Regions from separate parts of the Homo sapiens genome. Here all the other regions are linked to region 3. The links come from fine-mapping of genetic effects on gene expression. A gene starts in region 3. Each other region holds a variant in brackets. All regions are shown on one strand. Distances are from middle to middle. Region 1 has its middle 64 kb from the start of BRCC3. Region 2 has its middle 34 kb from the start of VBP1. Region 3 holds the start of VBP1 (VHL binding protein 1).

Region 1 (2,769 bases), 81 kb before region 3:
CCATGTGACAATTTTCCTAAGAGTGCATGGACAGTTCAACATACAAGAATCAATCGATATAATACACCAGATTAAATGAGTAAAGGACTAAAACTGCATGATCATCTCAACAGGTGCAGGATAAGCATTTGACATAAGCCAACACGTTTTCATGAGAAAAAGACTCAACAAACTACAAAGAGGAAGGAACTTCCCCAACCTGATAAAGGCCATATATGAATAACCCACAGCTAATATCATACTTAATGGTGAAAGACTGAATTATTTCTGCATAAGATCAGAATCAAGACAAGGATGCTGTTTCCTGCCACTTTAATATTGTACTAGAGATTCTAGCCAGGGCAGTTGAGGGCAGGGGAAGACACCCAAATTGGAAAGGAGATGTAAAACTGTATCTATTTGCAAATGGCTTGATATTATATAGGGAGAACCCTAAAGAATGCATGCACACACACACACAAAACCTATTAGAGCTAATAAATGAGCTCTTCAAAGCTGCAGAGTTTGGGCAGGGTTGCTAGCTGCTCTGGTACTGGAAACCCAATTTAGCTGGGGGTTGTCAAAACAAATGGGTACGGGGTTTCTTTTGCAAGTGGTGGAAAGGCTGTAGATTGATCTTGGTGATAGTTGCACAACTCTATGAATATACTAAAAACTACTGAATTTTACACGAAATGAGGGAAAAGTTGTAGTGTGGTGGGCCCCCCACCATGTTACTTAAGAGTGTATGTCCACGGCTTGAAACTTCAAGGCTTGGCGGTGAGCCAAGGCCATGGTGCCCAGCCTAGGAGCAGGTGTCCTTGAGAACCCAAACATCCTGGAATGGATCTGGGAACCCACTACAGCAAACAGTCTCATTGCACACAGTAGGCAAAGAGCCAGGAAATTAGCTTAAAAGCAGCTTAGAGATGGGAGGCAGGGCAGATCTCTGGAGTTGTCCTGCTGCTGCCCAGGAGTGCCCTGTATGTAAGTCCTAATAAACTCCTAAGATGGACTTCTTTGGTACCTTGGCTCCTTCCCAGTTTGGGGGGCCCAGTTTGAGGGAATGTTACAGTGCCAGGCTTTTCTCATAACGAAGATATATGTGAATTAAATATCAATAAAGCCATTTAAGAAAATATGCCTTAGAAAGATGTGATTTAAAAGTAATGTGTGTGCATGTCTAAACAAACTTCAACATTCCTTAAAGGAATACATGAACATACAACACTCAACAAAGCAAAATGAACAGTATCTGGCATCCAATCAGCAATTACTAGGTATAGGAAGAAGCAGAAAAATGTGACCCATACACGAGACAAAAATAAGTCAATAGGAACAGGCCAAGAAATG[C/T]CCAAGATGATGGAATTAGCAAATATTTAAAAATAACCATTATAACTATTATAATATCCACAAGGGTTTAAAGGAGAATGTTCATTCTTTTAAAATCTTTCATTACTCTCATTATGTTGAATAATATAAAAAGAACCAAATGGAACTTCTAGAGATGAAACATGCAATATTAGAAACGCAACATGTTCTAGATGGGATTAACAGCAAATCAGACTCTGCAGAAGAAAAGATCCGTGAATTTGAAGGCATAACAAAAGAAAATCTCCAAACTGAAGCATAGGGTAGGAGGAAGGCTCTTAAAAAATGGAAATGAACAGAGCTTTGGTGAACTGTGATACGATCATCAAGAAGTGGCCAGACGTGGTGGCTCACGCCTGTAATGCCAGCACTTTGGGAGGCCCAGGCGGGCAGATCACTTGAGCTTAGGAGTTTGAGACTAGCCTGGACAACATGGCAAAACCCCCCATCTCTACAAAACATACAAAAATTAGCTGGGTGTGGTGGCACATGGCTGTAGTCCCAGCTACTCAGGAGGCTGAGGTGGGAGGATGGCTTGAGCCCAGGAGGCAGAGGTTGCAGTGAACCGAGATTGCACCATTGCACTCCAGCCTGGCTGGGCGACAGAGCAGAACCCTCTCTCACTAACAAAACAACAACAACAAAATCACTGAGTGTAATACACATTTAATTGGAACACTCCACTCAATAATAGAAGAATATACATCTTTTCAAGTTTACAAAGAACATTTATGGCTGGGCGCGGTGGCTCACGTCTGTAATGCCAGCACTTTGGGAGGCCGAGGCGGGCGGATCACGAGGTCAGGAGATCGAGACCATCCTGGCTAACACAGTGTAACCCTATCTCTAATAAAGATACAGAAAATTAGTGAGGCATGGTGGCGGGCACCTGTAGTCCCAGCTACTGGGGAGGCTGAGGCAGGAGAATGGCGTGAACCCGGGAGGCGGAGCTTGCAGTGAGCGGAGATCCCGCCACTGCACTCCAGCCAGGGCGACAAAGCGAGACTCCGTCTCAAAAAACAAAAAAAGAACATTTACCTTGATAGACCATATTCTGTGCCATAAAATAAATCTCAAATTTTAAAAGACCAAAGTCAGAAAAAGGTGTTTAGACAACAAAAGCAGTATTTAGCAGTAAATGTCTATATTATAAAAGAAGCAATACATCAAGTCGGAAACCTAGCCTTCTACCTTAAGAAACCAGAAAATAAAGAGCAAAATAAACCCAAAGCAAGTAGAAGAAAGGAAATAATAAAAAGCATAAGTTCATGAAATAGAAACAGAAAATAGAGAAATCCCATGGAACCAAAAGTTGGTTCTTTGAGATCAACACAATTAACTCTTTAGGCAGACCAATCAAGAGAAAAAAAGAACATACATTACCAATATGAAGAGTGAGAGAAGTAACATCGGTAAAGA
Region 2 (2,769 bases), 34 kb before region 3:
TCCTGAGGTGGAATTGCTGGATCATCTGGTAATTTCATATTTAATTTTTTGAGGAGCCACCATACCATTTATTACAGCAACTGTACCATTTTACATTTCCACCAGCAACATATGAAAGTTCAAATTTCTCCACATCCTCAATACTTGTTATATTCTGTGTTTTTTGGGAGTGGGTGATTTTGATGACAGCTATCTTAGTCAGTTTGAGCTGGTATAATAAGTTGCCATAGACTAGGTGGCTTAAACAAGAAAAATTTATTTCTCACAGGTCTAGAGGCTAGAAAATCCAATATTAAGGCACTAGTAGATTTATTGCCTGGTGAAGGTCCTCTTCTTGGTTTCCAGACTTCTTGCCGTACCCATCACGTGGCAGAAAGAGAGCAAGAGTGCTCTCTGTGGTCCTTTATATTCCACTCATGAGGGTCCCACTGTCATAACCTAATTACCTCCCAAAGGCCCCATCACCTATTACCTATTACCTATTACCATCAACTATTAATGTGATGGTAATCACATTAGGCGTTAGGATTTCAACATATGAATTTGGGGGAGTGGACAGGAATATTCAGTCCATAACAATAGCCATACTAATGGGTGTGAAGTGGTATCTCATTGTGGTTTTAATTTGAATTGCCCTAATGATTAATGATGAGCATCTTTTCATGTGATTACTTGCCATTTGTATGTCTTCTTTGAAGAAACTTTTGTTCAAATCCTTTGGTCATTTTTTAATGTGGTTGCTTTGGTGTTGTTGACTTGCAGAAGTTCTTTATATATTTTGGATATTAACCCTATATCAGATATATAATTAGCAAATATTTTCTTTTATTTTATGAGTTACCTTTTGACTCTCTTAAAAGTGTCCTTTGATTATACAAAGGTTTTTAATTTTGATAAACTCCAATTTATCTATTTTTCCTTTTGTTGCCTATACTTTTGGTCTCAAATCCAAGAATTCATTGCCAAATCCAGTGTCATCAAAGTTTTCCCCTTTCTTTTCTTAGAAGATTTTTATAGTTTTAGTTCTTAAGGTTAGGTCTTTGATTAATTTTTAGTTAACTTTTGTCCCTGGTATGAGGTAAGGGCCCAAATTATTCTTTTTTTTTTGTACTTTAAGTTTTAGGGTACGTGTGCACAACATGCAGGTTTGTTACATATGTATGTATGTGCCATATTGGTGTGCTGCACCCATTCACTCATCATTTACATTAGATGTATCTCCTAATGCTAACCCTCCCTGCTCCCCCCACCCCACGACAGGCCCCGGTGTGTGATGGTCCCCTTCCTGTGTCCAAGTGTTCTCATTGTTCAGTTCCTACCTATGAGCGAGAACATGTGGTGTTTGGTTTTCTGTCCTTGCAATAGTTTGCTGAGAATGATGGTTTCCAGCTTCATCTGTGTCCCTACAAAGGACATGAACTCATCCTTTTTTATGGCAGCATAGTATTCCATGGTGTATATGTACCACATTTTCTGAATCCAGTCTATCATTGATGGGCATTTGGGTTGGTTCCAAGTCTTTGCTATTGTGAATAATGCCGCAGTAAACATACATGTGCATGTGTCTTTACAGCAGCATGATTTATAGTCCTTTGGGTATATACCCAGTAATGGGATGGCTGGGTCA[A/G]ATGGTATTTCTAGTTCTAGATCCTTGAGGAATCGCCACACTGTCTTCCACAATGGTTGAACTAGTTTACAGTCCCACCAACAGTGTAAAAGTGTTCCTATTTCTCCACATCCTCTCCAGCACCTGTTGTTTCCTGACTTTTTAATGATCGCCATTGTAAGTGGTGTGAGATGGTATCTCATTGTGGTTTTGATTTGCATTTCTCTGATGGCCAGTGATGATGAGCAGTTTTTCATGTGTCTGTTGGCTGCATAAATGTCTTCTTTTGAGAAGTGTCTGTTCATATCCTTTGTCCACTTTTTGATGGGGTTGTTTGATTTTTTCTTGTAAATTTGTTTAAGCTCTTTGTAGATTCTGGATATTAGCCCTTTGTCAGATAGGTAGATTACAAAAATTTTCTCCCATTCCGTAGGTTGCCTGTTCATTCTGATAGTAATTTCTTTTGCCGTGCAGAAGCTCTTTAGTTTAATTAGATCCCATTTGTCAATTTTGGCTTTTGTTGCCATTGCTTTTGGTATTTTAGACATGAAGTCCTTGTCCATACTTATGTCCTGAATGGTATTGCCTAGGTTTTCTTCTAGGGTTTTTATGGTTTTAGGTCTAACATTTAAATCTTTAATCCATCTTGAATTGATTTTTGTATAAGGTGTAAGGAAGGGATCCAGTTTCAGCTTTCTCCATGTGGCTAGCCAGTTTTCCCAGCACCATTTATTAAATAGGGAATATTTCCCCATTTCTTGTTTTTGTCAGGTTTGTCAAAGATCAGATGGTTGTAGATGTGTGGTATTACTTCTGAGGGCTCGGTTCTGTTCCATTGGTCTATTTCTCTGTTTTGGTACCAGTACCATGCTGTTTTGGTTACTGTAGCCTTGTAGTATAGTTTGAAGTCAGGTAGCGTGATGCCTCCAGCTTTGTTCTTTTGGCTTAGGATTGACTTGGCAATGCGGGCTCTTTTTTGGTTCCATATGAACTTTGAAGTAGTTTTTTCCAATTATGTGGAGAAAGTCATTGGTAGCTTGATGGGGATGGCATTGAATCTATAAATTACCTTGGGCAGTATGGCCATTTTCATGATATTGATCCTTCCTATCCATGAGCATGGAATGTTCTTCCATTTGTTTGTGTCCCCTTTTATTCCATTG
Region 3 (2,769 bases):
TCAATGTTTTTCTGTAGAAACGTTACCTACTTTTCAAAAACAAAATTTTTTTTTGGAAGGCACTGAGGTGGGGGAGAGTGGTGAAGAATAGAATTCCCATATACTTTTCTCTCCAGGAACAGAGACATTATCTTACAAAACTGCTGACCAGAAAAGGTCAGAGTCATGGTTAGCTAACATGTCTTCATCCTCCCAAGCCAAATCGCATAGAAGCCACTGGAGAACTAGTTTGGAATTCCGGCTTCACTACTATGTAGTTGTAGGATTTTGGAGGAGCTGTACAGGTTCACTGAGCTTTAGTTTCCTCATTCACAATATGACGATACCAATTTCTTCCTCATATTATATCTAAAGACATATCTATGTCTATATGCTTGATCGTACATTATGTGCGGAGATAAACCGGTAACAGTGATTGCCTCTGAGAAGAGAGACTTACTTTCCATTGCGTAATTCTTAGGCTCATGGTAGAATTTGTGCAAGTGGATGAAGCACTGCCTCACTGGGAAACACTCCAGTGAAATAAAGCACAGAAAAGAGCCCGAAGAATAATTACTTGGTTCTGTATGACACATGTGCTTTTAAAGGGTTGTAGTGTAGGATGACATTGGGTAAGTCCATGGGCCTAGAAGCCTAGGTGGAGTTCTTAGGATTTTGTATGTAGACTATGAAGTTTTGGAAACGTTTGAGCTGGAGAGAAGACATTCTGATCAAAGGTGGCTTTCAGGAAAGGCTGGTGCGACAGGCAGGGTATTTATTAGAATGAGGCCAGTGACCACTCTGAAACAGACACAAAGTAAGTTCCCTTCAAGGGGCAGGAAGCTCCCTGGGATGGTGAGACCAGAAAGGCACAGAGGCTGAACCCTCGTGATGGCGCTAGGTCCCAGGTTCGCTAGCATCCGAGAGAGGGGATTGGGTCGCTCCAGAGGCCATTGCGAAGGCTGCTGCCAGTTCTAGGGTCGGGGTGGGGTCAGGCTAGGTCCCTATTCCTAGGGCTTTAGCACCGCTCACTCACAAGACCCCTTTTCCCAGGAGGACGTATGGGTTTTTCCTGTCGCTCCAGCTTCTCTTTCGCGGCCCTTCCACGCTTGTCACTTACCTGAGCGCAGCCAATCAGCACCTAGAGGTTGGGCTACTTTCGGCCAAAGGAGAACGGGGACTTGTGGGGGACGCTCCCTGCGCACCAATGAATGTGCATGGAGATGGAGAGGCGGGCCTGCAAGTGCGAACAAGCCAATCACGGAATCCCGGCGGCCGGCGGCCCGGGAGGCAGTCGCGCGCTCGCATCCCCAAGATGGCGGCCGTTAAGGACAGTTGTGGCAAAGGAGAAATGGCCACAGGGAATGGGCGGCGGCTCCACCTGGGGATTCCTGAGGCCGTGTTTGTGGTAAGAGGCACGCTGTTCCCTGGCATCTTGGCTTGAGGCCTTGGACTGCCCCTTTCTTCCCGGCTCCCACCCAGGCCTCGACTGTTGGAAGGAGCTGAGCCAAGTGTTCAGGGAGGGGGCGCTCGGTCTGCTCTCACCCCTCGCACCTGGACAGATTGAGCTCTGCTGGGGGCCCGCCCGGAAGAAACGTAGCTCGAGAAGGCCGTAGAAGAGAACGGGGTGCGGGGCCGGGACGAGGGGCGAGGGGCGAGGGGCGGCGGGTGGCAGGGCAGGGCGGCCTGAGGGACCTCCGGGCTGCCGCCGGTTTTCGTCCCCCTGCTGGTTGGAAAAGGGGAGGTGGTGAGGAGCTCTCGACTCAGCATGGATGCTGGAGACACAGTACAATGAATAGGCAGAACAGCCAGTGCTAAGATGTGAAAACCGGGAATATCACTTTGTCTGTTGAAGGAATGCAGTGGTCTCGGGAATGTTGCCTCGGGAAATGGAAGAAGAGACCGATGGGAAAATAGGATGATAGGTTGGGAGTGTAAAGTCCTTCTGTGTCTTGCTAAGGAATTGAGGTTTTCCAGTAGGCAACGGGCTGTCATCAGAAGGCCTTTCGTTTTAACTACATCATTCTAACAACTTAGTGGAGAATGAATTGTTGAGAGAGGAGGCTGAACCCTCCTGATGGCGCTAGGTCCCAGGTTCGCTAGTGTCCTAGAGGGGATCGGGTTGCTCCACAGGCCGTTCTGGAGGGCGCTGCCTGTGCTGGGTGGCTTTTTAAAAATTTTATTTTATTTATTTAATTTAGAAATAGTAGTTGAAAACTATTTGACTAATGAGAGAAAACATCTGACTGGCCCTCCAGGCCAGGTCATCTGTCTGTCCCCACTTAGCTACTATAAAATCTTCATGGAAGTTTCTCAATCTTTTGGTTTGTACCTTACCTTACCTCTGCCTTTTTTTTACTAACTACGTCTTATATCCTTCTAAAGACTCATTTATTTATACCACACTTGATATTGTATATTCGCATTTGCTGATTGAATTTCGTAATTGGTTATTATTTTGTGTTTTTATGAGCTGTGTCATTTATTTCTCTACATTGATCTATTATCTAACCATAACAAGGAATAAAATTTGTTGAGTGCCAGGCACTTTCTTAATGATTTTACAAAACTCGAGGTGGTAGCTACTACTGTTATGCCCGTTTTTTAGATGATAAAACTGAGGTACGGGGCACTTGAGTAACTTGCCCCAGGCCACACAGGATGTAAGTGAGGTATCCAGGGTTTGAACTTGGACAATCCGTGGAGGTCCAGACTGGCAGCTTACCCCTCATGCTCTGCTACTGGGAGGAGGTGAGGTAGTTCTCATGAATCGCCCTACTTCTCCTGGTC

The links. PIP is the estimated chance that this variant, and not a neighbour inherited with it, causes the effect.
Region 1: its variant is the best candidate, but not a certain one, in a credible set for the expression of VBP1 in whole blood (GTEx, PIP 0.53).
Region 2: its variant is the best candidate, but not a certain one, in a credible set for the expression of VBP1 in whole blood (TOPMed, PIP 0.80).

Annotation. Positions count from the first base shown.
Region 1 is chrX:155,133,690-155,136,458 of GRCh38, forward strand. No RefSeq gene overlaps it. Among named protein-coding and RNA genes, the nearest start is that of BRCC3, 64 kb to the left of the region's middle. The variant C/T (reference allele first, on the strand shown) is at 1,333.
Region 2 is chrX:155,181,253-155,184,021 of GRCh38, forward strand. No RefSeq gene overlaps it. Among named protein-coding and RNA genes, the nearest start is that of VBP1, 34 kb to the right of the region's middle. The variant A/G (reference allele first, on the strand shown) is at 1,628.
Region 3 is chrX:155,215,189-155,217,957 of GRCh38, forward strand. VBP1 (VHL binding protein 1) reads left to right here and starts at 1,272. Exons shown (of 6, transcript NM_003372.7): 1 at 1,272-1,387. The coding sequence starts at 1,295. RefSeq lists enhancers at 925-1,713, 1,024-1,318, 1,316-1,395 and a silencer at 1,566-1,655.